Homo sapiens: one gene and its partners. The protein of the gene in region 1 interacts with the protein of each later gene in a pairwise test. Each region holds a gene or a part of one and is shown in the gene's direction. Other genes may lie near its edges.

Region 1 (7,140 bases):
GCACCGCAGGGATGGCTCCTTTCCCATCATCCCTGAGCCCGCTGGGCTGTTGGCCTGAGGGTTTTTTTTTTTTTTTTTGAGTCTTGCTCTGTCACCCTGGCTGGAGTGCAGTGGCGTGATCTCAGCTCACTGCAAGCTCCACCTTCTGGGTTCACACCATTCTCCCGCCTCAGCCTCCCAAGTAGCTGGGACTACAGGCGCCTGCCACCACGCCCGGCTAATTTGGTTTTTATATTTTTAGTAGAGACAGGGTTTCACCGTGTTAGCCAGGATGGTCTCAGCTAGTCTCCACCTCCTGACCTCGTGATCCGCCCCCCTTGGGCTCCCAAAGGGCTGGGATTACAGGCGTGAGCCACTGCGCACGGCCGGCCTGAGGGTTTTAAGGTACAAGGAGCAACTGTTGAATGGGCCTAGGGAGCCGTGGGACAGCCAGGGCTTCAGACAGGGTGATGTGAAAGGAGAAGAGAGCCTGGGAAATGGATAAGCAGAAGCCACGCCCCCCTGACCTGGGAGCCGGGTCCTGCCCACCTGTCCACGCAACCCCCCCAGGAACTTCAAATGCTTCTACCTCCCTGTGTGCTGGATGCTTCGGGACTATCATCCTAGAGATGAGAAATGGAAGCCCAGAGAGGCAAAGGCACTTGCTGTATGAAACACAGCATCAAAAAAGAAATTCTTAGGAACAAATGATGGGCAAAAAGACAAAACCCTGTCTCTACAAAAAAAATTAGCTGGGCATGGTGGCCTGTGCCTGTAGTCCCAGCTATTTGGAGGCTGAGGTGGGAGAATTGCTTGAGCCTGGGAGGTCAAGGCTGCAGTGAGCTATGATCGCAACACTGCACTCCAGCCTGGGTGACAGAGAGAGACTGTCTCAAAAAAAGACTTATACACGAAAACTGTAAGCTGGGCATGGTGGCTCACGCCTGTAATCCCAGCACTTTGGGAAGCCGAGGCTACAAGAGTGATAAGTAAATAAATGAATGAATGAATGAATGAAAGGACATCACAACCGAGGTTACCTGGCAGGGTTGATACGTTAGCCATGTACCCTGTGCACAGTGAGCCCTCTAGGAGTGTTGAAGCCAGAGTGCTTGGGGATGGGGCTGCTCAGAGGCTGGGGGTGCTGTGCCCACAGCAGCTGCCTGGGGCACTCTGGACTCTTTGGGTAGAAATTTTAGAAGGGCTCGCCGGGCGCTGTGGCTCACGCCTGTAATCCCAGCACTTTGGGAGGCCGAGGCGGGCGGATCACGAGGTCGGGAGATCGAGACCATCCTGGCTAACACGGTGAAACCCCATCTCTACTAAAAATACAAAAAATTAGCCGGGCGTGGTGGCGGGCGCCTGTAGTCCCAGCTACTTGGGAGGCTGAGGCAGGAGAATGGTGTGAACCCGGAAGGCAGAGCTTGCAGTGAGCCGAGATCGCGCCACTGCACTCCAGCCTGGGTGACAGAGCGAGACTCGCTCTCAAAAAAAAAAAAAAAAAAAGGAAAAATTTTAGAAGGGCTCAGATTGGGGGATGAAGGAGGGAGCCCAGAAAATCAGCAGCCTACCCCGCACCCGCCCAGCTTTTCCAGCTTAGTGAGCTTTTTCAGAGGCTCTTGTGAAACCACAGATGCCTAGCACCATCCCTACCCCGGCCTGAGGAGTTGATCCAGCCAGTCTGGGGAGGGCCCTGGCATCTGCATATGTAAAAGGTGCTCCAGGTGGTCTGGGACCGTAGATGAACCCTGACAGAGGCTGTCCAAGGGTGGGGCTGGTGAGCTCTACCCGCTCTGGAGCCCCAGAACATCCACTGGCTGCCTGCCCTGCTAAGGCCACAGCTCTACAGCACAGGAGGAAGGAGTGAAAAGAATGTCTGTGGCCGGGCGCAGTGGCTCAGCCTGTCAGCCCAGCACTCAGGGAGGCAAGGCGGGTGGATCACCTGAGGTCGGCAGTTTGAGACCACCCTGACCAGCATGGTGAAACCCCGTCTCTACTGAAAATACAAAACTTAGCTGGGCGCCTGTAATCCCAGCTACTCGGGAGGCTGAGGCAGGATAATCGCTTGAACCTGGGAGGCAGAGGTTGTAGTGAGCCGAGATCATGCCATTGTATTCCAGACTGGGCGACAGAGCAAGACTTCATCTCAAAAAAAAAAGAATATCTGCAATAGAACCACCTGATACCATTCCCCAAGTCTCAGTTTACCCATCTGTAAAGATAGGCCTGCAGGGCTGACCGTTTATTAGTCCAGACTTGACTTTGCATCTCCTCACTGCCAGACCTGGGCTGGGCACGGGCATGGAATGAAGATAAGCATCCCTGACCCCTGCCCTCAGGGTGGGGACTGGATGAGGATAGAAAAGTGAGACCCAGAGCTCCAAGGAAGCTAATGGCTGGATGCACGAGCACCATGGGGGCTTGGGGCACTGTCCAGGCCCCATTCTCCAATTCTGGGCCATACCCAGCAGAAAGACCGACACACGCAAGGAAACAAGACACTACTGGCCAAGCACGGTGGCTCATGCCTGTAATCCCAGCACTTTGGGAGGCCAAAGTGGGCAGATCACTTGAGGTCAGGAGTTCGAGACCAGCCTGGCCAACATGGTGAAACCCCATCTCTACTAAAAATACAAAAATTAGCTGGGCATGGTGGTGCATGCCTATAATCCCAGCTACTCGGGAGGCTGAGGCAGGAGAATCGCTTGAACCTGGGAGGCAAAGGTTGCAGTGAGCTGAGATCAAGTGACTGCACTCCAGCCTGGGTGACAGAGTGACACTCCGTCTCAAAAAAAAAAAAAAGATACGGTAAGTAAGAACCGACGGAAAGAAGAGCCAGATAAAGGACACAGGAAGACATGAGCTTTGGGCTCTGTCAGACCAGGTGCTTACTGTTTTGTGTTTTGTTTTGTTTAGTTTTTTGAGATGGAGTCTCACTCTGTTGCTCAGGCAGGGGTGCAGTGGTGTGATCTTGCCTCACTGCAACCTCTACCTCCCAGGTTCAAGTGATTCCCCTGCCTCAGCCTCCTGAGTAGCTGAGATTACAGGCACGCGCTGCCACGCCCGGCTAATTTTTTTTATTTTTAGTAGAGATGGGTTTCACCATGTTAGCCAGGTTGATCTCGAACTTCTAACCTCAGGTGATCCACCCGCCTCGGCCTCCCAAAGTGCTGGGATTACAGGCGTGAGCCACCGCGCCCAGGCTGATGTTTATTGTTTTTAAGGAAGCAAGAGGAGAAGGTGCCTCCCCAAATGACCTTTCTCTTTTCTGTCCACAGACAGCAGCCCTCTCGTGGGCAGCACGCCCACCGGTTATGGGACCCTGACGATAGGGACATCAATAGATCCCCTCAGCTCCTCAGTTTCATCCGTGGTAAGTGGGCAGAGTGGGGTGGGGAAAAGCTGCAGGGGGTGAATGCCCAGGCCCACCCAGACACCCCAACTTCCTACTCCAGCCCCGTTCCCACCCCGACCTGGGCCCTCTCTCGCTGCGTTCGCAGAGGCTCAGCGGCTACTGTGGCAGTCCATGGAGGGTCATCGGCTATCACGTCGTGGTCTGGATGATGGCTGGGATCCCTTTGCTGCTCTTCCGTTGGAAGCCCCTGTGGGGGGTGCGGCTGCGGCTCCGGCCCTGCAACCTGGCCCACGCCGAAACACTCGTTATCGAAATAAGAGACAAAGAGGTGAGAGTCAGGCTGAGCCTGGGGCTAGAGAAGCGCAGTGAGGGTCAGGGTCGGGGGTGGAGGATGCTTGGGTGCCAACCCGGCCACTGACTTTCCATGGGACATTAGGCAGGTCCCGCTCTTCTCTGGACCTCAGCTTTCCCATCTGAGCATTGGGCAGAAGGGACGGGTCGGGTGGTTTCTGGAGGGCTCTCCATAGCCTTGATTTCTGCCTTCTCCAGCAGGGGCCGCCTGGCTGTAGGACAGGGCCTGGGAGGGGAGGGGACTCTTCTGAGACTGAGTCCATACCTCTGTGTTCCAGGATAGTTCCTGGCAGCTCTTCACTGTCCAGGTGCAGACTGAGGCCATCGGCGAGGGCAGGTGAGGCAGCCCCATTGCCCCTTCCCAGAAGCCCCTGCTACCCTGGCCTCCCCAACTTCCCCAACCCTCGGCCCCCCCATAAAGGCTGACTCTGGCGCCTCCCATCCTAGGGAGGGAAGATGGCTCTGTGAGCACAGGGAGGTGCCAGGGCAGCTCCCAGAGCTCGAGAGTAACCCTCACCTGCTTCCCCAGCCTGGAGCCGTCCCCACAGTCCCAGGCAGAGGATGGCCGGAGCCAGGCGGCAGTTGGGGCGGTACCAGAGGGTGCCTGGAAGGATACGGCCCAGCTCCACAAGAGCGAGGAGGCGGTGAGTGTCGGACAGGTGGGTTCTGAAAAAGTCCTTGCCCCTCTCTCGGCCTCGGTTTCATGATCTGTGCAATGGGAGAGTCAGACTTCATGTTCTCCCACCACCTTTTAGTTCTGTTGTCCCAAACATCCAGGATGCTGTCTGAGCACGTTTACACTTTCAGGCCTCTCCCCACCTCTCTGTCTGGTGACACCAGTCCCTGCCCCCTACCCCCATCCCTCGGCTCCCAGCATAAGCACACTGCTTCTGGGGCCGGGGCCAGCTTCCAACCCATCCTCTCCTCTCTCCCACCCAGAAGCGGGTGCTGCGGTATTACCTCTTCCAGGGCCAGCGCTATATCTGGATCGAGACCCAGCAAGCCTTCTACCAGGTCAGGTAGGAGTCAGGGCCTGTGTGGCTCATGTCACCTCCCAGAGTGGCACTGGTTTGGGCACAGACGGTGGCATGGCATGGCCTGGGCTCCCCTCTCAGCTCTGATGCTTTTGCTGTCTGAAACCTTGGGCAGGTTACTGAGCCCCTCCAGGCCTGGGATCTCTGTCTATAAATAGGGCATGAAGATAACTTCTGCCTCCTAGGATTGTTTTGATGGTGAAATAGATAATAATTTATGTAGAGCTTGGCACCGAATGTGATCTGAGGTTGTGACACCACTGTGAATCAGACTATCAGCTCTGTACTCAGACTGTCTGCTTGGGGTTTAGTCACTGCTCTGCCACCTACAAAAGGCTTAAGAAACATGAGCTCAGGCTGGGTGCGGTGGCTCACCCCTGTAATCCCAGCACTTTGGGAAGCCAAGACAGGTGGATCACGAGGTCAGGAGTTCAAGATCAGCCTGGCCAAGATGCTGAAACCCCATCTCTACTAAAAACACAAAAATTAGCTGGGCGTGATGGCATGTGCCTGTAATCCCAGCTACTTGGGAGGCTGAGGCAGGAAAATCGCTTGAACCTGGGCGGCAGAGGTTGCAGTGAGCCAACATCGCGCCACTGCACTCTAGCCTGGATGACAGAGCATGACTCCATCTCAAAAAAAAAAAAAAAGAAAAAGAAACACAAGCTCACCACACACCTTAGTTTGTGTGTATGTGTGTGTGTGTGTGTGTGTGTGTGTGTGTGTGTGTGGTTTTTTTGGTTTGTTTGTTTGTTTTTTAAGATGGAGTTTCACTCTTGTTGCCCGGGCTGGAGTGCAATGCCGCATTCTCGGCTCACTGCACCTCCGCCTCCTGGGTTCAAGCGATTCTCCTGCCTCAGCCTCCCGAGTAGTTGGGATTACAGGTGCATGCCACCACACCCAGCTAATTTTTGCATGTTTTGTAGGGACGGGGTTTCACCATGTTGGCCAGGCTGTTCTCAAATACCTGACCTCAGGTGATCCACCCGCCTCAGCCTCCCAAAGTGCTAGAATTACAGGCATGAGCCACCGGGCCCTGCTCACACACTTTAGTTTGAATGCCGCAGAAGCAGACCCCCAGACAAGGGCTCAAGGGCAGGGAGTTTGTTTTGAAGCTGATCCCAGGCAGTGCTGGGGAAGGGATGGAAGCACGGAGGGAGGTTATGCTGGCTGCCACAGCTGTGGACACCCGGACTTCAGTCGCCTGGGGATCTCCTTGGGCCAGCGTAGACCACACACCTCTGGGCGACCTCACACAGGGAGTGAGGACAGTTACCATCAAATTCCCTGCCATTATCAGTCACGGGACACAAAGTCTTCCACGCTTTCCGGGCTCACAGGCAGGGGATTCACATGCAGCCAGAAGGCCTCAGGTAAAGACAGGTGTTTTCAGGGTCCAGCTGTCATGTGGAGGTGAGGCAGAGGGGAGATGGGGATGGCAGCAACAGCCTCTGCTGCATGATGGGGATAATAGCAAAAATCACCCGTGCATTCATCACTTAGCAAGTGGCAGGCACGTCCAAAGCAGTCCCCGAGGCTTGCCCCACTTAATCTACCCATGGCCCTATGTGGTAGGTGCTGTCACTGCCCCCATTTTGCAGATGAGAAAACTGAGGCACAGAGAGGTTAAGTGACTTGCCCAGGGTATCATCAGTGTAAATAGTGCCCTTATCACTAAATAACAGCTACTCTTTTCACTGTTCATATTATTAGCATCATCTCTCGCTGTTCTCCTTCTTCAGTGACTTGGTTTGGAACCCAGTGAGAGGAACAAAAGGGCAAAGCCAAGCCTTGGGTTCAAGGGGGCTTACTTGCTCCCAGGAGCTCAGTGTGGCAGAACGGGGATGGGGGGCCTAGAGCCCATAGTCTCCAGCCTGCACAGGGTGGGGGATGCAGACCTCAGGCCCCATGGCCCATGCGTGTCCCCTCGCACCCACCCCCAGCCTCCTGGACCATGGCCGCTCTTGTGACGACGTCCACCGCTCCCGCCATGGCCTCAGCCTCCAGGACCAAATGGTGAGGTCAGTGCTGCCCTGGACCGGGGTGCCCTGAGAACTGGGGCTCCTTGTGTTGCCCCCCAATGTGGTTGCCTTCCAGTCACCTGCCTTCTCTGGGCCTCAGTTCCCCCAGCTGAAAGTGGGGAGCTCCTTCACCCCGGGAGGGTCCAGCCACAGCTCCTCCTTCTGATGGCTTGGCCTCATCCCCTCTTCCAGGAAGGCCATTTACGGCCCCAACGTGATCAGCATACCGGTCAAGTCCTACCCCCAGCTGCTGGTGGACGAGGTAGGGCTGTCCCTGGGTCTTGCCCCAGCCCTGCCTGGCGTGCTGTGTGACCTTGGCCCAGGGCTTGCCTCCTCTGGGCCACTTTACGGTGGCAACCAGACCAGCTGTCCCCTTCTCCATAGTGGATCGTCATCTCAG
Region 2 (7,502 bases), on another chromosome or scaffold:
AGCTTAACCCTCACAGCGCTGGATGGTGGGTCTCCATCCAGGTCTGGGACCTCCACTATACGCATTGTGGTCTTGGATGTCAATGACAATGTCCCACAGTTTGCCCAGGCTCTGTATGAGACCCAGGCTCCAGAAAACAGTCCAGTAGGGTCCCTTATTGTTAAAGTGTCTGCAGGAGATGCAGACTCAGGAGTCAATGCAGAAGTATCCTATTCATTTTTTGATGCTTCTGAAGATATTTTAACAACGTTTCAAATCAATCCTTTTTCTGGGGAAATCTTTCTCAGAGAATTGCTTGATTATGAGTTAGTAAATTCTTACAAAATAAATATACAGGCAATGGACGGCGGAGGCCTTTCTGCAAGATGTACAGTTTTGATAAAAGTATTAGATTCCAATGACAATCCTCCTGAACTGATCATATCATCACTTTCCAACTCTGTTGCTGAAAACTCTCCTGGGATAGTATTGGCTGTTTTTAAGATTAAAGACAGAGACTCCGGAGAAAATGGAAAGACAATTTGCTATGTTCAAGATAATCTGCCTTTTTTTCTGAAACCGTCTGTTGACAATTTTTACATCCTAATGACTGAAGGTGCACTGGACAGAGAGAGCAAAGCTGAGTACAACATCACCATCACCGTCACTGACTTGGGGACACCCAGGCTGAAAACCGAGCACAGCATAACCCTGCAGGTCTCCGACGTCAATGACAACGCCCCCGCCTTCACCCAAACCTCCTACACCCTGTTCGTCCGGGAGAACAACAGCCCCGCCCTGCACATCGGCAGTGTCAGCGCCACAGACAGAGACTCAGGCACCAACGCCCAGGTCACCTACTCGCTGCTGCCGCCCCAGGACCCACACCTGCCCCTCGCCTCCCTGGTCTCCATCAACGCGGACAATGGCCACCTGTTTGCCCTCAGGTCGCTGGACTACGAGGCCCTGCAGGCTTTCGACTTCCGCGTGGGCGCCTCAGACCGCGGCTCCCCGGCTTTGAGCAGCGAGGCGCTGGTGCGCGTACTGGTGCTGGACGCCAACGACAACTCGCCCTTCGTGCTGTACCCGCTGCAGAACGGCTCCGCGCCCTGCACCGAGCTGGTGCCCCGGGCGGCCGAGCCGGGCTACCTGGTGACCAAGGTGGTGGCGGTGGACGGCGACTCGGGCCAGAACGCCTGGCTGTCGTACCAGCTGCTCAAGGCCACGGAGCCCGGGCTGTTCGGTGTGTGGGCGCACAATGGGGAGGTGCGCACCGCCAGGCTGCTGAGCGAGCGCGACGCGGCCAAGCACAGGCTGGTGGTGCTTGTCAAGGACAATGGCGAGCCTCCTCGCTCGGCCACCGCCACGCTGCACGTGCTCCTGGTGGACGGCTTCTCCCAGCCCTACCTGCCTCTCCCGGAGGCGGCCCCGGCCCAGGCCCAGGCCGACTTGCTCACCGTCTACCTGGTGGTGGCGTTGGCCTCGGTGTCTTCGCTCTTCCTCCTCTCGGTGCTCCTGTTCGTGGCGGTGCGGCTGTGCAGGAGGAGCAGGGCGGCCTCGGTGGGTCGCTGCTCGGTGCCCGAGGGTCCTTTTCCAGGGCATCTGGTGGACGTGAGCGGCACCGGGACCCTGTTCCAGAGCTACCAGTACGAGGTGTGTCTGACTGGAGGTTCAGAGACCGGCGAGTTCAAGTTCTTGAAGCCGATTACCCCCCACCTCCCGCCCCATAGGGGTGGGAAAGAAATAGAGGAAAATTCTACTCTCCCCAATAGCTTTGGATTTAATTATTGAAAGGAACCCACTTAATAAAGACATTTACTTCTTTAATATATTCTTGTTGGCTAACTAAATTGTGTATGCCCACCACAAAGAAGGTACTATTTTTTGTTTGATTCATCTTCAACTTTGCGTATTATGCTTAACTTCACAAGTTAACTTTTTCTTATTTTGTATCCTGATGAGGCATTTCTTACTAGAATCCCATAAGTGAAATATAATATTTTTCAAAGTTGATATCATTTAAAAATTTTTGGTCGTTTTAAATGTCTTTATTGACTTTAAATTCATTGCCTCTACATTATTCATTAGTTCTTCTTTTCCTAAAACTTTTTACTTGTTAAAATAGTCTGCTGCATGTAATATGTGCTTTTACTATTTGATATTTCTTCTATTTTTCTTTTGAAACCGGTGTTCTTATTGGTTTGCCATCCTTGTTCATTACAACTGTTTTTTGTTTGTTTGTTTGTTTTTTGGTTTGTTTGTTTTTTTTTTTTTTGAGACGGAGTCTCGCTCTGTCGCCCAGGCTGGAGTGCAGTGGCGCGATCTCAGCTCACTGCAACCTCCGCCTCCCAGGTTCAAGCGATTCTCCTGCCTCAGCCTCCAGAGTATCTGGGACTACAGTTGCATGTCACCACGTTCGGCTAATTTTTGTATTTTCAGTAGAGACGGGTTTCATCATGGTGGCCAGGATGGTCTATCTCTTGACCTCGTGATCCACCCCACTCAGCCTCCCAAATTGCTGGGATTTACAGGCATGAGCCACCGCACCCAGCCTACAATAATTTTCTTAAACTTTACCTTTTATTTTAAAGTTCTAGTTTCCCGGCATTGATAGTTCCCTATTTGAAATATAATGTTTCTCTTGTAAGTGATATGATAAATAAACCCCTAATTAGCCTTAGAAGAAAAACCACTGCAAGATATTAAGCGTGTGTAAATGGGCTTTAGTCTGGAAACCAAAAAAAAAAAAAAAATTTAGTCATTCTATAGGATCATGTGAAAATATTTAATTTGCTCCTTTTAATTCTGTATAAACAAATCAGAGGTTCCTGAGGTTCCTGTTAAATTTTTAATGGCTAATAGCCCAGTGCCATCCAGTTGAAAAAACAACAGCAATCACAAAGTAGAGGTTTATATTGTGCGGCTTTTATATTCAGCTATTAGAGTGTTATTGGTAGTGTCTAGCCTTTTCCTCCACGACATTCCTTGACTTAATCCATTTGGGCCTATTATAGACAAAATAGAGCTTCTTTCTAGATATAAGGTCTTTGAGGCAGGGCTCAGTGGCTCATTCCTGTAATCCCAGCACTTTGGGAGGCCAAGGCGGGCAGATCACCTTAGGTCACGAGTTTGAGACCAGCCTGACCAACGTTAAGTAACCCCGTCTTTACTAAAAATACAAAATTAGCCAGGCATGGTGGCACATGCTTGTAATCCCAGCTACTCGGGAGGCTGAGGCAGGAGAATCGCTTGAACCCAGGAGGTGGAAGTTGCTTTGAGCCGAGATTGCACCATTGTACTCCAGCCTGGGCAATAAGAGCAAAACTCCATCAAAATAAAATAAAATAAAATATAAAATAACTTAAAAAGAACTTTGAATAAAATTCTATGAAAAAAGACACTAGAATGCTGTTCTTAATTTTAATAGTGTTAAGATAGGTGTTAGTGTGGTCTGTTCTTTACCTCCCTTTATTTGGTGCAGAGAAGTTAGATCCTGCTAAATTTCAATTAAGAGGGGACCTTAAAATAAGGATCAATCTCTTATTTAACCCTGTAAGTTACTTTAAAGCTAATACAAGAAAAACAAAGACAAGTGAAAGTAAGGAAACAGAAATTGCAAAGAGTAAATGAAAGAAAAAAACTTTCAAGTGGTCGGAATTGAAAGGCACTGGAAAACGTTTCAGGTTCTACCCATCTGAGTTTATTTATGCATGTCCTAATACAGGCAGTATTTATTGCTTGTCTGATTTGTCACTCACAGATGATTAGGACATAGTTCCTATCCTTAAGTAGCCCACACATTGAAGAAGAAATAGATTTGCATGAATTAAGAAGCAATAATATTTGCAGGGCAATCATAGTTGTATACACAAGTTTTTATGAGAGAATAGAGGAGGGACAGCTTAAATGCATTATACAAGATTACAGAGTGATGATTCTCCTTAATCAGTGTGATGAGATTTTGAAGTTTGTTGAGGAAGGTGTGAAACATATTTTCTTTGTCTGTTTTGGTGTTCTTATCCCGATGTTTCTGGAAAAGTAAAATCTCCTGTTACTTTGGTGATCCCAGATGTCAGCAACATTTTCCCTTTGATTCTTGACATTGTGTGAGAGTTGTGTCTGAGATGAAAGGACTAGTAGAGAGCTAAATTTAGCACAGTGAGGTGGACAGAGTTATTGCTAGAAACATATTTTCAAGTGTTGAATTTTTAACTTTTCCCAAAAAGAATTGAAGAATCTCAACAATGTGACTATTTCTCTGTCTCAACATTAATTTTTACAAGACAAACGAAAATAAACATGAAAAATTTAAATGAGGCACTAAAGGAAATTGTCTGAATACACACACCCAAATGGGTACAACTACTGAAATCTGGTGGAGGCCACACGGTGGCGCTGCAGGCTAAAGAGACGGTTTGGGAATTGCTCTGAGGATGCTATGCAAGTCACTAATAAAGGAAGACACGGACAGATGAACTTAAAAGAGAAGCTTTAGCTGCCAAAGATTGGGAAAGGGAAAGGACAAAAAAGACCCCTGGGCTACACGGCGTAGGTGCAGGGTTTCCTACTGCTGTTCTTTTATGCTGGGAGCTGTGGCTGTAACCAACTAGGAAATAACGTATGCAGCAGCTATGGCTGTCAGAGAGTTGTGCTTCCCAAGACAAAGGCAAGTCCTGTTTCTTTTTCTTTTTTGGGGAGTGTCCTTGGCAGGTTCTGGGTTTGGACGTTATTCGGTGACTGAGGAAACAGAGAAAGGATCCTTTGTGGTCAATCTGGCAAAGGATCTGGGACTAGCAGAGGGGGAGCTGGCTGCAAGGGGAACCAGGGTGGTTTCCGATGATAACAAACAATACCTGCTCCTGGATTCACATACCGGGAATTTGCTCACAAATGAGAAACTGGACCGAGAGAAGCTGTGTGGCCCTAAAGAGCCCTGTATGCTGTATTTCCAAATTTTAATGGATGATCCCTTTCAGATTTACCGGGCTGAGCTGAGAGTCAGGGATATAAATGATCACGCGCCAGTATTTCAGGACAAAGAAACAGTCTTAAAAATATCAGAAAATACAGCTGAAGGGACAGCATTTAGACTAGAAAGAGCACAGGATCCAGATGGAGGACTTAACGGTATCCAAAACTACACGATCAGCCCCAACTCTTTTTTCCATATTAACATTAGTGGCGGTGATGAAGGCATGATATATCCAGAGCTAGTGTTGGACAAAGCACTGGATCGGGAGGAGCAGGGAGAGCTCAGCTTAACCCTCACAGCGCTGGATGGTGGGTCTCCATCCAGGTCTGGGACCTCTACTGTACGCATCGTTGTCTTGGACGTCAATGACAATGCCCCACAGTTTGCCCAGGCTCTGTATGAGACCCAGGCTCCAGAAAACAGCCCCATTGGGTTCCTTATTGTTAAGGTATGGGCAGAAGATGTAGACTCTGGAGTCAACGCGGAAGTATCCTATTCATTTTTTGATGCCTCAGAAAATATTCGAACAACCTTTCAAATCAATCCTTTTTCTGGGGAAATCTTTCTCAGAGAATTGCTTGATTATGAGTTAGTAAATTCTTACAAAATAAATATACAGGCAATGGACGGTGGAGGCCTTTCTGCAAGATGTAGGGTTTTAGTGGAAGTATTGGACACCAATGACAATCCCCCTGAACTGATCGTATCATCATTTTCCAACTCTGTTGCTGAGAATTCTCCTGAGACGCCGCTGGCTGTTTTTAAGATTAATGACAGAGACTCTGGAGAAAATGGAAAGATGGTTTGCTACATTCAAGAGAATCTGCCATTCCTACTAAAACCTTCTGTGGAGAATTTTTACATCCTAATTACAGAAGGCGCGCTGGACAGAGAGATCAGAGCCGAGTACAACATCACTATCACCGTCACTGACTTGGGGACACCCAGGCTGAAAACCGAGCACAACATAACGGTCCTGGTCTCCGACGTCAATGACAACGCCCCCGCCTTCACCCAAACCTCCTACACCCTGTTCGTCCGCGAGAACAACAGCCCCGCCCTGCACATCGGCAGCGTCAGCGCCACAGACAGAGACTCGGGCACCAACGCCCAGGTCACCTACTCGCTGCTGCCGCCCCAAGACCCGCACCTGCCCCTCGCCTCCCTGGTCTCCATCAACGCGGACAACGGCCACCTGTTCGCCCTCAGGTCGCTGGACTACGAGGCCCTGCAGGCTTTCGAGTTCCGCGTGGGCGCCACAGACCGCGGCTCCCCCGCGCTGAGCAGAGAGGCGCTGGTGCGCGTGCTGGTGCTGGACGCCAACGACAACTCGCCCTTCGTGCTGTACCCGCTGCAGAACGGCTCCGCGCCCTGCACCGAGCTGGTGCCCCGGGCGGCCGAGCCGGGCTACCTGGTGACCAAGGTGGTGGCGGTGGACGGCGACTCGGGCCAGAACGCCTGGCTGTCGTACCAGCTGCTCAAGGCCACGGAGCCCGGGCTGTTCGGTGTGTGGGCGCACAATGGGGAGGTGCGCACCGCCAGGCTGCTGAGCGAGCGCGACGCAGCCAAGCACAGGCTCGTGGTGCTTGTCAAGGACAATGGCGAGCCTCCTCGCTCGGCCACCGCCACGCTGCACTTGCTCCTGGTGGACGGCTTCTCCCAGCCCTACCTGCCTCTCCCGGAGGCGGCCCCGGCCCAGGCCCAGGCCGAGGCCGACTTGCTCACCGTCTACCTGGTGGTGGCGTTGGCCTCGGTGTCTTCGCTCTTCCTCCTCTCGGTGCTCCTGTTCGTGGCGGTGCGGCTGTGCAGGAGGAGCAGGGCGGCCTCGGTGGGTCGCTGCTCGGTGCCCGAGGGTCCTTTTCCAGGGCATCTGGTGGACGTGAGGGGCGCTGAGACCCTGTCCCAGAGCTACCAGTATGAGGTGTGTCTGACGGGAGGCCCCGGGACCAGTGAGTTCAAGTTCTTGAAACCAGTTATTTCGGATATTCAGGCACAGGGCCCTGGGAGGAAGGGTGAAGAAAATTCCACCTTCCGAAATAGCTTTGGATTTAATATTCAGTAAAGTCTGTTTTTAGTTTCATATACTTTTGGTGTGTTACATAGCCATGTTTCTATTAGTTTACTTTTAAATCTCAAATTTAAGTTATTATGCAACTTCAAGCATTATTTTCAAGTAGTATACCCCTGTGGTTTTACAATGTTTCATCATTTTTTTGCATTAATAACAACTGGGTTTAATTTAATGAGTATTTTTTTCTAAATGATAGTGTTAAGGTTTTAATTCTTTCCAACTGCCCAAGGAATTAATTACTATTATATCTCATTACAGAAATCTGAGGTTTTGATTCATTTCAGAGCTTGCATCTCATGATTCTAATCACTTCTGTCTATAGTGTACTTGCTCTATTTAAGAAGGCATATCTACATTTCCAAACTCATTCTAACATTCTATATATTCGTGTTTGAAAACCATGTCATTTATTTCTACATCATGTATTTAAAAAGAAATATTTCTCTACTACTATGCTCATGACAAAATGAAACAAAGCAT
Region 3 (7,533 bases), on another chromosome or scaffold:
TGCCCTCCCTAGATGATGCAACATTTTTATATAGTCAAAGTCGAAACTGGGAGAGTTCTGTACAGATCTTGTTAAAAATAACTCTTATCTTTTAAGCCTCTCCATATAATTTAGTGGCTTCTTCACAACTAACTCTTCTCTGTCCAATCCACTACATAATTAACTGACTTTAGCTACTTCTTTGGGGTCTTCATTTCTTTATGAGGGCTCCTGTGCTGCGTGAAGTTTGTATTAAGTTTTTCTCCTGTTAATCTATCTTATGTGGATTAAATTCTTGGACTCAGCTGGGACCCTAAGAGGAGGGAGGTAGACTTTTCCCACCCCTACAGTGTGTATATATCAGGGTTCCAAGCCAGGTTGTCTGGACAGAGGAACCCAATTCCCTTGAGTTGAGGGGCTGTCTTTGCTTTTAAGCCGTTGCCCTGCAGAAGGGGCTTGGTGTTGCGGTTATTCTGGGGGAGCGTCCAGTCCCAGGTGAAATGACTCCTGCCATGCCCAGCTACCAGATAATGAAGCTTCTTCCCAGGGTCACAACTCCAAGAATGAGGAACGCCTCGTCCTCAGGCCAGCGGCGCAGCTGAGCCTCTCTGGGCTCATATCACAGTCACCATAACTGCACTGTCTCCACTCTAACGGGGCTCCCAGATCACAGACCCTACCGGCCGCCGCTCTGGCCCGCCAGGATCCTCACGCTTTTAAGTCAGGTGCGGTTTCTGGAAGAAGCCTGGTGGTGCCACATCTACAGGCGAATCAGATCCCAGAGCAGACAGAGCTGACCACCTGCCCTGTGGGGCGTGCAACCCCAGGTGCAGATTACAGACAGGGAAGGAGGGAGGAGCTTAGCTGAAACCCCTTCCTGACCCCTTTCCAATAAGCACTCAGGGGTAGCAAAACATCCAGGAACTTTTAGTTCTGGGTCAGCTGGGACAGCGGTAGGGACAGCGTCCTGTTCGTGCCTTCTCTGAGTTTTCTATTAGGTGCCACCAAACACATTCCCACCCAAAAGAACCATTATATTGGACCTTACTGAAAAGGTTAAAATATGCATTCTGGCATGGTAACTGTTTCAGTGAAAGGCACTTGAAAAACAGCAGGTGCAAGATCACTCTCCCCATAGCAGAAGGAAGACAGCATCCTTATCCTTAGGACTAGAAGCTGCCAGCTAAAGAATACTGCAGAGCGTCACTCTAATCTTTTTAGTCACATTTTCAAAGTTTATTCTTCTCTGTTTAATCCAGTATTTAAGTAGTGGACGCGAACTGCTTGCTCGGGTCTGTCCCTCTTTCCTTCCTTTCCTTCCCTTCCTTCCTTCCTTCCTTCCTTCCTTCCTTCCTTCCTTCCTTCCTTTTCTTTGCTAGGGCCTGCCTTTCTCTGTTGCTTTCTTTCTTGCTTTCTTTGTTCGGGTCGTCATCTCTTTCCTCTTTCTTTCTTTCTTTTCTTTCTTTCTCTCTCTGTCTTTTCTTCCTTTCTCTCTCTGTCTCTCCCTCTTTCTTTCTTTCCCCAAGGAGGATTTGCCTGCCTGCCTGCCTGCCTTCCTTCCTTCCTTCCTTCTTTCCTTCCTTCCTACCTTCCTTCCTTCCTTCCCCCTTCCCTTCTTTTTCTTTTGACAGAGTCTCACTCTGTCACCCAGGCTGGATTGCAATGGTGCAATCCCGGCTCACTACAACCTCCGCCTCCCGGGTTCAAGCGATTCTCCTGCCTCCCGAGTAGCTGGGATTACAGACGCGCGCCACCGCGCTGGGCTAATTTTTTGTATTTTTTAGTAGAGATGGGGTTTCACCATGTTGGCCTGGCTGGTCTCGAACTCCCGACCTCGCGATCCGCCCGCCTCGGCCTCCCAAAGTGCTGGGATTACAGGCCTGAGCCACCGCGCCCGGCCGGGTCTGCATTTCTGTATGAGGGCTCCCATGCCGCGTGAAACTTGCACTATGCTTTCCTCCTATTCATCTATCTTATGTCAATTTAATTCTCGGACCCAGCCGGGACCCCTAGAGGATGGAGGTGGAGTTCTGCCCTTACACTGAAAGCACAATCTTCCAAAAGCAGAGACACTCTTCAAAACTTTGAAAAGAGACTTTTAGGTCCTAGGGCAATGGAATCTCGTTTTCTCAAAAAGCCCTGCTTGCTTACCCTCTCGTTTTCCCCCAGGCCTGTTTTCTGGGACAGGGTGGGAGGCCCAAGGAGACAGCCAAGTTCAGGCCCCAAGCACCCAGCTCCTCCTCCCAGGGTGGGAGCCTGGCCAGAGTTCCCGACCCACCCCGCCCCATTCCCCGCTGGCGCTTGGTCCGCCCCTCCCCGTCTGGAAGCCTCCAGCAGCCCCGCCCGGCGGAACTAGGGGACGGGTGGGGGACGTCGAAGGGCGAGGGCGGTGACCCCGGGGCCAGAATTCTCGCAGGCGCCTGGGCCGGGTGCCCGGCCGTGCGTGAGTGCGGAACAAGTCTGGGCGCGGGGAAGGGCGTGGGTGCGGGCCGTGGGTGGGTGCGGGGCAGGGCGCGGGGCTGTGGGAGGGCGCGAGGCCGTGTGTGGGTGCGGGGCTGGGTGCAGGCCGTGGGTGGGCGCGGGGCCGGGGCTGGCGGGGCAGGGCGCAGGCTGCTGCAAGGCGGCCTCGTGGATTCTGGCCCCGGACGCACGAAGCGGGTTCTACTTTTTAAAAAAACTGCGTTGCCTTTTCCTTCCTCTACGTTAGCATCCTGTCCGGGGTCCCCGGCCCATGTGGCCTTTCTTCCAGCGACAGTACACTTAGCTCAGAACGGATTGACACCCACTCTGTGTTTCCACCGGGCGCGCAGGCTCTGCAATGCGGAGCGCGTTCTCTGAAGGACAGGCCCCGGAGTCACGGCTACAGCCACAGAAAGCGGAAACCGAGCTGCAGTCCAGAGGGGATCCCCGTACATTTCCAGCGGGCTCAGACACAGGGTCCCCCACAAGAAAGAAACAGGACAGAAAAAGTCAGGACACGTATGCTGTGGAGAGTCGAGGTCTCGCCTAGATCTTGGGTGTGGGTAGACGCAGCCGCTGGCAGTTTTCCTTTCCAGCGTCTCTGGGGAGCCTGGAGATGTCCTTGGTGCCGATGTGACACGAAGAGTGATTGCGCCGCCCTGCAGAGGCGGTGGCGGGACGCTGCGCTCGGGCTGGGAAAGGCCGGCCCCAGGGCGACCCCTCCGGAGGCCCCCGGAGAGCAGGTGTGCACCTCGCCTCCCGCTGGGCAGCCAGTTCAGGAGAAAAATGTGAAGCTTTTAGCTAAACAAAATATTTCTTTCGTTAAGGGCTTTCTCCACACGGAGACTTTCTAGCCACGTGAGACTTTGACCTCCCAGTCCCCCAGATTCAGCGCTGGGACCGAGCGTCTGCTGTTATTTTTAGTAGAAGTATAAAAAGAATCTCGAAAAGTTTTAGCTCTGGAGAAGGCGTGAATACAGCTGGTGCCTTCATACACTCCACTTGAGCCGCTCTTTAAGAACTCCAGGAGATCAGAAAGCAATACGAAAGCCAGAGCATTGCACATGGGATGGGCTGGCGGGTGGCCTTTGGGTCCCTATCTTATGGACGATTTTTGTAAATGGGGCATTGGAGATGAGTATCACCTGGATCACATTTTTAGGTTGAATTCCTCCGTGGGGGGAACTTTAGCAATACGCATCCAAATAAGAATGTAGATTGCAATAATTGTAGTAAAGTGTTTGCCAGACTCATCTCAGAAAAAGACATTATCAAAAGGCATTTATTATCTTCCTAATGCGTGTCTGGCACTGGGCAGACACTGTAGAATACTATCTTGATTAGAGTCTCAAGGATTTTGTACTTAAAGTCCTTTACAAATAAAAGTATTCAAGTATAATCTATTATAAAGACTCTTTTCTCCACTTTGGGGATATACGGTGTGGCATCGATTCATTGGTCATACCAAAACTGTTACTTCTGTTTTGGAGGAATTAACAAGGAAAACCCAGGCTTAGTAAATCAACATCGAAGTTCAGAAGTTCAGAGTAATTTGTCTTGGGAACAAAGTCCTCCCTAGAGCGAAGAGGCATTCACAGGAGCTCTTGGTGTTAATGGGATTATTCAAGATATACCTGAGACCAGATAAATATTTGATGATTTTGCCAAGCACTAGGGTTTCTTTGCAGTTTGTCTTTGGCTGACGTTTTCCCCCCGTGGGGTTTGGACTTTGTGGCTTCACCAGATTTTGCAAATGAAAGAAGGCTGGGGTTTCCCAAGAGTACACTTGTGCAGGAAACAACAGACTAGTGAGGTTTACAAGAGGGGGGTGTGTGTGTGTGTGTGTCTGCCTGTGGGATGGGGGTGGCACGGGGGAGAGAGAGATGTGGGTTACAAAGCTGCCATCTAGAGGCTAGAGGCTCCTTTCTGCAGTGTATATAATGCAAGTCTGCAGCCAGCAGAGCTCACAGTTGTTGCAAAGTGCTCAGCACTAAGGGAGCCAGCGCACAGCACAGCCAGGAAGGCGAGCGAGCCCAGCCAGCCCAGCCAGCCCAGCCAGCCCGGAGGTAAGGAAACGGTGCTCGGGCAGCAGCTCTGCTCGGAAAGAAGGCACGGCTTCTGCTCTTAAGCCAAGTGGTCTTTTCAAAGGCCTTCTTTAAAATCGCTCAGATGGGTGCTTTTGAGTCTGCGGGTCTGGTTTCTGAAAACCCAGGCTGCACGCAGCTGCATTGCAAAGTGCTTTTGCTAATTCGGAGGGCTTCACCTTTCTCTTCAGAAAGCAAAGGGCAGTTTTCTTAAGTCACTTGCAGAAGGAAATTTCCATGTGTATTTAGGAATCTGGTGTTTATTTGCTGTGTGGCTATTTAAGCTCCAGTAAGCAGGGGAACTTTGCAAGAACACAGACTATCCATTCTGCCTGACCAATTTGGCATGGGGATTAGCTTGGCACCCACTGTTTACCTGTTTTGCTTCTAGTATATCAGTTTGGAAACAGATAAAATTGGCAGTAAATACGTAATTCCAGAATGATGAACACTTTATTAAGAGGCATCCTTAAATGGAGCAGAAAACTGCTGAGAATCTTTGTGAGTCCAAGATGTATTTGAATTCAGTACTTTGGGGGATTTACCAGAGTCTGTAAGTCCGGAAGCTATAAACGTGAATGTTAAACACAGCCCGGTCTTCTCTTCTCTTGATGGCACGCTTGCTAATCTAATTTGAGTATTGTTCTCTTAGAAGGTGTTAAGTCCAACTTCAATTGGGGTTGGGGGAAGCACACACACAAATCTACTATTTTGCAATTTAAATATACTCTTCAGGTAAAATGTGGATTTTGTTCAATTTTGTTGGCATGTGCAAAGATTCAAGGAGTGACTGAGAGAACTTTGGAGTGAGGTCAGGGATGGGTGGTTAGCCAAGACTTGTAACTTCCAGGGAGAATGAGAAGTTGTAAAAGTCAGACTGGCTGTCTCTCTTTCTCTCTTCCTCTTTCTTTCTTTCTTTCTTTCCTTTTGCTCACAACAGGATTACTTAGTGTTTCAAAAGTGGGAGAGAGCCTCCTTAAATGGTTTACAGCCCTTTGAATGTATTTGGTGCAGTGACATCCCCTGAAACTTCAGTCTGCAAAGTCTCAACATGGTAACTTTGTTCTTTTCTTTTTTAAAGGCAGATGCTGCTTTTAGTGTCCCTTTATTTATTCCAGGAAAAATGTGGACATCAGCTAGGCACGCCTAGCAAAGAAAGTGGAGGCTGCTGGTTTCTGTGCTTTAACTTTCCATAGATTTTAAATGGATAAACTGCTTGCCCTTCTTTCATCAGAATATGAGCTTTCCCCAGATGGAAAGTCTTTTCTAAAGCAAAGTTGCACATGGGAGCTCTAGCTTGGAAACAATTTGCTCTTTTTTCCCCAGTCTCTGCCATAAACACTTGAATGTGCACACAACTGCAGAGCTTAATGCCACAACCTCCAGGAGATTGGGGGGAGGGGAAAGCTGCCCAGGATGGGGGTGGGAAAGCGAAGGAAGATGGAGAAATGGCTGCAGTTTGCTGCCCATCAGCTTTTCTCTTTTAAGGGGCAGACATTGCAGACGTAGTTTTAAAAAAGTTCCATAAAGCATCGCCAAGGCAGCATGCCTGTGCGACACACGCAGGGCTTTGGGGGTGTGTTTTCCCCGTATTAACAGCAAGTCGTTGAAGCGTTGAGAAGGTATTATGATTTCTAATCAGGCCCAGAACAGGCCAAGTATAGGCTTTCTGAATGAAAAAAAAAAAAAAAAAAAAAAAACCCAAAACAAAAAACCCTGCTTAATCAGGAACAGTGGCTTTTTGTGTGATCATTTTAGGGCGAGAGCTCCTGTTTTCAAGTCGACGTGAGGGAAATTGGTTGAAGTCACTCAAACCTGAGGCTGAAGGGCAGTCACTTTATAAACCTTAAGAGTAACCGAGGGGAAAGAAAAAGACCTCAAAGATTGCAAAACTTTAGATTTTTTTTTTGTGATTTTGTAGAACATGAGGGGAATCTGGGGCCAGAAGGCATTTGTACCTTTAAACCAGGCAATCAAATAACTTAGTTTTATTATTAGAAGCAAGAATAGTATTAAAACGCCTTCAATTGGATTGCACGTGTGTAGGCATAATTCAGGAAGAAACTAAAGATCGTGTCATGTCAAGTGTTACTAAAGTTCAGGAAGGAAAAGACAAAGCTCCAGGACACGTATTTTCTGTTGAAATAAAAGAAAGCAAGCCAGAAATAGACAGATCAGGACAGGGAGGCGTGCAGGCGGTGGCCCTGATTTTGAATATTTGATGGTTTCCTTCAGGGAATGTTTGATGCTTTTATCGACTAATTTGGAATTGAAAAAAACAAAACAAAACACTATTGCTTCAATATTAAAGTGATCAGGGAATTGCATAATTTTATGGTGACAATTTTAAAGAGCCACAGGTAGTTTTGGAAGCAGACTGTGTTTTGTTCCAGGCACTGAAAAAGTGGATGGGGGCCGAGACTATCTCAGGTGGCCTTGAACCACTGTTGGCAAAGGGACAGATAACGAGCCCAGGGCAGTGTGGGGGACTTTGCGTTTTGAAGTCTGGGTCAGCCAGATAGTAAGCATCTTTTGCTTTTCCTGCTATAACAGATATGTGGCCATCCTCCCTCAGTTGTATATGCAGAGCCTAAGTTTGCACAGTGTCCTCCTGGGAACCCCATTGTGTCTGGCTTAGGGCGGGGGTGAGGAGGCTCTCCTAGCCTGGCTGACCTCCCACTGCCTCGTCCTAGTCCTAAGCTGGGTGGGAATCAGGGCTCTGGTTACACTGGGCCGGCCCAGACGGCAGCCTTTGTGACGTGGGAATCTCTGGACCTGCTCTTGTGGGTATAGCTTTGCTTCCCTGTCGGGCAGCTGAGCACAATAGACCAGATCAGGTTTCTGGACGTGGGATTTATTTGATCCCCCAAATCCTTAAAGTGGACGAGGGTGTCCCACGTGTTCATGTGAAGTATGTCTAAGGACCCTGGGAAGAGGTGGACTGTATCTGAATCAGGATATAGAGTTTTCTGTAGTTATTATTTTTTGCGTTCTCAAGTAATTCAAAGCA
Region 4 (7,140 bases), about 140 Mb from region 1:
TACCCTATCTCCATTTTCTAACAATAAAAGTTGATGCATTGTAAATATGTAAGCAGCAGTGGGTTGCCCCCCGCTCCTCCACCGCACTGCTGCAGGGAATAAATCTATGATAGAGCCAAAAGAATTGCCCAGGTGTCTCCTAATCTAAGCCTTCAGATCTCTCTTTATGATCATTCCAAAAAATATGCCTGTCTTGGTAGTTTGCTGTGTTCCTCTTCTCATAGAGACAGTGTTCAGTTTCACTAATGAGTAGCAAACAATTTGCAGGAAAGCACCTGATTGATGAATGGAGAGCCACTTCCTTAGGCTGTGCCCATTCTTAATGGCAACTGAATCCAATTAGTTGTTCAACCAAATATTTACTGAACTCCTATTAGAAGCAAGAGACTCTTGAGGGATTCAAAGATCCATAGGATATTGTTCCTGCCTGCCTTCAAGTAGCTTACTACCAAGGCTGTCTCCATTTTGTGAAAACTTTCCCTAAAAGCTATTTCATTTAATACTTTGAGACTAAACACTATTATTATTCGGTATGGATATAGACATGGTCACCTTGATTTATTTTGTTAATAATGTTTTGCTCCTTATCTATATTATTTTAAAATGTACCCGGGTACAGTGGGTCGTGCTTATAATTCCAGCGACTCAAGAGACTGAGGCAAGAGGATCTTGAGGCCAGGAATTCAAAACCAGACTGGGCAACATAGCACCTTGTCTCTAAAAAAAATTTTTTTTAATTAGCCAGGCATAGTGGCATGGTCCTGTAGTCCCAGCTATTCAGGAGTCTAGGGTAGTAAGATTGCTTGAGCCCAGGAGTTCAAGGCTGCAGTGAGCTGTGATTGCACCACTGCACTCCAGCCTGGGCCACAGAGTGAGACCACGTCTCTAAAAAAATAATAACAATAAATATATATTTTAAATAAAATGTAACTCTTCCTTGGTTAGGCATGGTGGCTTGCACCTGTAATCCCAGCAATTTGGTGGAGACTAAAGCAGAATTGCTTGAGCCCAGGAGTTCAAGACCACCTGGGCAATATAGTGAAGACTCATCTCTAAAAAAAATTTAAAAATTAGCTGGGCATGGTGGCTCATGCCTGTAATCCTAGCACTTTGGGGGGCCAAGGCTGGCAGATCACTTGAGGTCAGGAGTTCGAGACCAGCGTGGCCAATATGGTGAAACCCCGTCTCTACTAAAAATACAAAAACTGGCCAGGTGTAGTGGCATGTGCTGGTAATCCCAGCTACTCAGGAAGCTGAGGCAGGAGAATCACTTGAACCAGGGAGGCAGAGGTTGCAGTGAGCCGAGATCGCGCCATTGCACTCAAGTCTGGGCAAAGCAAGACTCCATCTCAAAAAAAAAAAAAATTAACCAGGCATGATGGCACATGCCTGTAGTCCTAGTTCCTCAGGAGGCTGAGGCAAGAAGATCATTTGAACTGGGGAGGTCAAAGCTTCAGTAAGCTGCGATCATGCATGCCACTGCACTCCAGCCTGAGTGACATGGTGAAATTCCATCTCTGCAAAAAATACGAAAATTAGCCAGGTGTGATGGCATGTGCCTGTAGTCCCAGCTACTCAGGAGGCTGAGGCAGGAGGATCACTTGAGCCCAGGTGGTGGAGGTTGCAGTGGGCCAAGCTTGTGCCACTGCACTCCAGCCTAGGCAATAAAATGAGACGCTGTCTCAAAAGAAATAAAAAAAGTAAGCTCTACCACAATGCCTGGCAGGGACATATAAATTTACACAAAAAATAGCAATTTTATTATTGTCACTGCTATACACAATATTACATGTATATTATGACCAGTGCAGATGAAATTATACCTGCCTCTCATGTAATCTGGACATTATGCTCATAGTATTGTGCTCATGATGCTCATAGGCTTTCTAGAGAAGATAAACCCTTCATCTAGGTTTGGAGGGAAGAAAAAGCCATGGATTGGTTGGAGAGGATAGGAGAGGATACCTCTAATAGAAGGGAAAACAGTAGGCATTATACTAATTATAGTCCAAGATTGTGGTTGCCTAAATTCCTAAGTCATTTTTGACTCATCAAGTGAGGTTATTGACTATAAATAGGTTTTTGAGTCCAAATAGAAATTTACATTTATCCCTGATATATGTAATCATCTTGACTCAATCCTTTTTTTTTTTTTTTTTTTTGAGATGGAGTCTCACTCTGTCACCCAGAATGGAGTGCAGTAGCACAATCTCAGCTCACTGCAGCCTCCGCCTCCGAGGTTCAAGCTATTCTCCTGCCTCAGCCTCCCAGGTAGCTGGGATTACAGGCACCTGCCACCATGCCAGGCTAAGTTTTGAATTTTTAGTAGAGACAGGGTTTCACCATGTTGGCCAGGCTGGTCTCGAACTCCTGACCTCAGGTGATCTGCCTACCTCAGCCTCCCAAAGTGCTGGGATTACAGGCATGAGCCACCGCACCAGGCCTCAATCCTCTCTTTCTAATCTGTGGAGGCTGTTTTGAATTCACTGACTCTTTTGTTCACTGAACGCTTACTACATGCCGCATAGTTCTAGGACGTGGAACTATAGCAGTGAACAAAACAGACAAAGTTGCTGTTTTATTAAGCTTGTCTAGTGATCAAAGAAAGATAATAAATATATGTCAGGATAATAAGCTCCATGAAGAAAATTAAGGAAGGGTGATGGGGACATTATCTTACTTGGGGCAGACAGGAAATATTTCCCTCATCCAGTGAGGTTCGGGGCTCACGATAAGTGAAGCAGTGAGCTGCACAGATGCCTGATACAAGAATGCTTTAGGCCGGGCGCGGTGGCTCATGCCTGTAATCCCAGCACTTTGGGAGGCCGAGGCAATTGGATCACTTGCGGTTAGGAGTTCGAGACCAGCCTGACCAACGTGGAGAAACCCTGTCTCTACTAAAAATACAAAAATTAGCCGGACATGGTGGCGCATGCCTGTAATCCCAGCTACTCGGGAGGCTGAGGCAGGAGAATTGCTTGAACTCTGGAGGCGGAGGTTGCGGTGAGCCGTGATCGTGCCATTGTACTTTAGCCTGGGCAACAAGAGCAAAACTCTGTCTCAAAAAAAAAAAAAAAGAATATTCCAGAAAGAATCGGGGAAATGCTGGAATTATGTCTATTTCCTTTTCTTTTTTTTCCTCGCTCTGTTGCCCAGGCTGGAGTGCAGTGGCACGATTTTAACTCACTGCAACCTCCACCTCCTGGGCTCAAGTGATCCTCTTACCTTGGCCTCCCAAATAGCTGGGACTACAGGCATGTGCCACCATGCCCTGCTAATTTTTGTAATTTTTTTGTGTAGAGATGGGGTTTTGCCATGTTGCCCAGGCTACATTTATTTCCTTAGTTCTCCCTCCCTTCCAAGTGGTCCCCTAAAAAGTAAAGTGGAAAAAACTATAGGCCTAATCTGGACCTTTAAAGCCTAAACCCAATTTAGCCTCAATGAACTTGAGGGAGCGAAGAAACTTGAGGGTCCAATTTTTGTGGGAAAAGATAAGACTAGGGTAAGGGAAACAAAAAAAAAATCTATTTCTCTTTCTCTTTTTTTTTTCTTTTTTTTTTTTTTGAGATGGGGTCTCGGTCTTTTGCCCAGGCTGGAGTGCAGTGGCACGATCTCAGCTCACTATAACCTCCACCTCCCGGCTTCAAGTGATTCTCCTGCCTCAGCCTCCTGAGTAGCTGGGATTACAGGTGTGTGTCACCACACCTGGCTAATTTTTGTATTTTATTTTAGCAGAGACAGGGTTTCGCCATGTTGGCCAGGCTGGTTTTGAACTCCTGACCTCAGGTAATCTGCCTGCCTCAGCCTCCCAAAGTGCTGGGATAACAGGCGTGAGCCGCCACACCCGGCCTATTTCTGTTTAGTTATTTGTTCATCCAACACATAGTGCCTGCTATGTGTTTTAAGTGCTGAGGGTACAGCCGTGAACAAAACAGACATAAATTTTTGTCCTCATGAGACTTATATTCTAGTGAAGATAAATAATAAATTGTAAAATAATATGCGTGTGGGTGTTTATTCTTACATATTTGTGTATGTATTTTATATATTTTTTTCTTACATGTGTAGGGGTGTGTGTATCAGAGAGCGAGAATGACGGCATGTTGAAAAAAATTAAGCAAGGCTAGGAAGAGTGGGTGGTGAGGATGGAGAAGATTGCACTTTTAAATAGGTGAGTCAGGAAAGGCCTAAGAAGGTGACATTTGAGCAGAGATCTGACATTTTCCACTAATAGGGAAGAAAACCCCTATTTCTTCCAGTGAAGGATTTATTAAGGTAATAATAATGAAAAGAGAAAGTCTCTATTTCTTCCTATTTAGAATAATATATGTATACATAAATACATATATATACACACACACATATATACATATATACACACACATATACATATATACACATACACACACACACACACACACACACATATATATATATACATACATACACACACCTATTTTTTTGCCTACAATGGATATATTCATCCTGGAGGAATACCTTTTTTTTTTTGAGACGAAGTCTTGCTCCATCACCCAGGCTGGAATGCAGTGGCACGATCTCAGCTCACTGCAACCTCTGCCTCCCAGGTTCAAGCGATTCTCCTGCATCAGCCTCCCAAGTAGCTGGGATTATAGGCACATGCCACCACGCCCAGCTAATTTTTTATATTTTTAGTAGAGACGGGGTTTCACCATGTTGGTCAGTCTGGTCTTGAACTCCTGACCTCAAATGATCCACCTGCCTCAGCCTCCCAAAGTGCCGGGATTACAGGTGTGAGCCACTGCACCCAGCCTTGTATTTTATATACCTGGGAGCTAAAATTTTGGAACATATTTTAAAAGTACATAAACCCAGAATTCTTCCTTTTGGCACCCATCCATTTTTACTACCCTGAACACCCTACCAAGACCATCTAAACTCATCTCCACACCCTTCCACCCTAGCCTGACAGCGAGTCAGTCAGTGCAGGCCCTGTTCTGGATGCTATGGAATATCCTGAAACCAAACATCTTGTGTAACAGTTGAAGTGAACAGGTGCTCATGTAAAAAGGTGATCTTAGAACACGTACAGAGCAGCTTTATGTGAAGCACAAATCAGTATGAGCAAACCAAGTCTATAAGTGCTGAGAGAAGGTCTAGGAAAGAACATAGAGTCAAGTGGGGTGCTTCAGAGAAGGCTTTCTATAGAAGGCTGGGAGGAAAAGCCGTGGAGTGGTTGGAGAGGTTGGGAGAGGGTGCCTCTAATAGAAGGGAAAAATTCTGAAGCCCAGATGAGCACATTTTGCTTTAGAGGCTAGATTGAAGATTAGCTTGGCTCCAGCAGTGGCAATGAGCAGGGGAGATCTAGACAGGAGGTGAAGTCCACCCGCCCTGACACATCTCTGATCTCCGCCTTCAGATGTGTCACCGGTGGTGGCCGGCCTCATCGGGGCCTCTGTGCTGGTGGTGTGTGTCTCGGTGACCGTCTTTGTCTGGTCATGCTGCCACCAGCAGGCAGAGAAGAAGCAGAAGAACCCACCATACAAGTTTATTCACATGCTCAAAGGCATCAGCATATACCCAGAGACCCTCAGCAACAAGAAGAAAATCATCAAAGTGCGGAGAGACAAAGATGGTCCTGGGAGGGAAGGTGGACGTAGGAACCTGTTGGTGGACGCAGCAGAGGCTGGCCTGCTAAGCCGAGACAAAGATCCCAGGGGGCCTAGCTCTGGATCTTGTATAGACCAATTACCCATCAAAATGGACTATGGGGAAGAACTAAGGAGCCCTATTACAAGCCTGACCCCTGGGGAGAGCAAAACCACCTCTCCATCATCTCCAGAGGAGGATGTCATGCTAGGATCCCTCACCTTCTCAGTGGACTATAACTTCCCGAAAAAAGCCCTGGTGGTGACAATCCAGGAGGCCCATGGGCTGCCAGTGATGGATGACCAGACCCAGGGATCTGACCCCTACATCAAAATGACCATCCTTCCTGACAAACGGCATCGGGTGAAGACCAGAGTGCTGCGGAAGACCCTGGACCCTGTGTTTGACGAGACCTTCACCTTCTATGGCATCCCCTACAGCCAGCTGCAGGACCTGGTGCTGCACTTCCTTGTCCTCAGCTTTGACCGCTTCTCTCGGGATGATGTCATTGGCGAGGTCATGGTGCCACTGGCAGGGGTGGACCCCAGCACAGGCAAGGTACAACTGACCAGGGACATCATCAAAAGGAATATCCAGGTGAGTAGGAAGTGTGTGTTGGGGAGCAATGGTAGGTTGGGGGAGAAAATATCTCAGGGGATAAATGGAAGTGGGAGGGGAGTGGGTTGGGTGGCAAAGAAGGGCTGTAGAGAGGAAGCTCTTGGATGTCAAGGATAAGCAGTGGTCAGAGTAAGACAGAGGGCCTGGCAGATGAGGTCTCCTCTAAGAAGCAACTTCCTGGTGAGAGAAGGTTCAATAGCTTTCACCATTTCACTTAGTGGTTGGCATCCTGATGCTGTCCAGCTTACTTGGAACAGGCTGGCCTACCATTTGTAGATCCTTCATTATATCAGGGATATGGGAGCTAATTTCCTCTCCAAAATGATGTGATCTTCCTCCAGTGAATTTATTTTTCACAGCTGAGAAGCTATGACAATAATTCAGTAATTTTTCCCTCAGCTTCCCTTTCCCAACCCTAACCTAGGGGTGTAAATGATACCATGTACATGTCTTTTTTTTTTTTTTTTTTTTTTTTGAGACAGAGTTTCACTCTTGTCGCCCAGGCTGGAGTGCAATGGCGCAATCTCAGCTCATTGCAACCCCCACCGCCCAGGTTCAAGCTATTCTCCTGCCTCAGCCTCCCGAGTAGCTGGGATTGCAAGCACCCATCACCACGCCTGGCTAATTTTTTGTATTTTTAGTAGAAACGGGGATTCACCATGTTAGCCTGGCTAGTCTTGAACTTCTATCCTCAGGTGATCCACCTGCCTCGGACTCCAAAAGTACTGGGATTACAGGCATGAGCCACTGCACCCAGCCGTCATGCACATGTCTTCTTATGACCATTTTACAATGCAATTCAATGAATTGCTTCACCCTTCTAGGCCCAAACCTTTGCCATAGACACTTCCCCTCTCTCCATTTCTCCTGTCCTCCCTCTTTGTATTAGAAGAG

What was found.
Region 2: the proteins of ATP13A2 (region 1) and PCDHB10 interact in a two-hybrid assay, tested with the Homo sapiens proteins (one study listed by BioGRID and IntAct).
Region 3: the proteins of ATP13A2 (region 1) and ACKR3 interact in a two-hybrid assay, tested with the Homo sapiens proteins (one study listed by BioGRID and IntAct).
Region 4: the proteins of ATP13A2 (region 1) and SYT11 interact in a two-hybrid assay, tested with the Homo sapiens proteins (one study listed by BioGRID and IntAct).

The regions. Positions count from the first base shown.
Region 1 is NC_000001.11:17,001,896-17,009,035, reverse strand, and holds part of ATP13A2 (polyamine-transporting ATPase 13A2), read left to right. Parts: intron 1-3,257; coding exon 3,258-3,352; intron 3,353-3,479; coding exon 3,480-3,662; intron 3,663-3,963; coding exon 3,964-4,022; intron 4,023-4,214; coding exon 4,215-4,344; intron 4,345-4,624; coding exon 4,625-4,704; intron 4,705-6,662; coding exon 6,663-6,740; intron 6,741-6,932; coding exon 6,933-7,002; intron 7,003-7,140. UniProt on the Homo sapiens protein: ATPase which acts as a lysosomal polyamine exporter with high affinity for spermine. Also stimulates cellular uptake of polyamines and protects against polyamine toxicity.
Region 2 is NC_000005.10:141,187,943-141,195,444, forward strand, and holds the start of PCDHB10 (protocadherin beta-10 precursor), read left to right. Parts: upstream 1-4,410; 5' UTR 4,411-4,610; coding exon 4,611-7,013; 3' UTR 7,014-7,502. Other genes in the region: PCDHB9 (protocadherin beta-9 precursor), read left to right, coding at 1-1,770. UniProt on the Homo sapiens protein: Potential calcium-dependent cell-adhesion protein. May be involved in the establishment and maintenance of specific neuronal connections in the brain.
Region 3 is NC_000002.12:236,565,420-236,572,952, forward strand, and holds the start of ACKR3 (atypical chemokine receptor 3), read left to right. Parts: upstream 1-4,405; 5' UTR 4,406-4,505; intron 4,506-7,533. UniProt on the Homo sapiens protein: Atypical chemokine receptor that controls chemokine levels and localization via high-affinity chemokine binding that is uncoupled from classic ligand-driven signal transduction cascades, resulting instead in chemokine sequestration, degradation, or transcytosis.
Region 4 is NC_000001.11:155,862,567-155,869,706, forward strand, and holds part of SYT11 (synaptotagmin-11), read left to right. Parts: intron 1-5,398; coding exon 5,399-6,225; intron 6,226-7,140. UniProt on the Homo sapiens protein: Synaptotagmin family member involved in vesicular and membrane trafficking which does not bind Ca(2+). Inhibits clathrin-mediated and bulk endocytosis, functions to ensure precision in vesicle retrieval.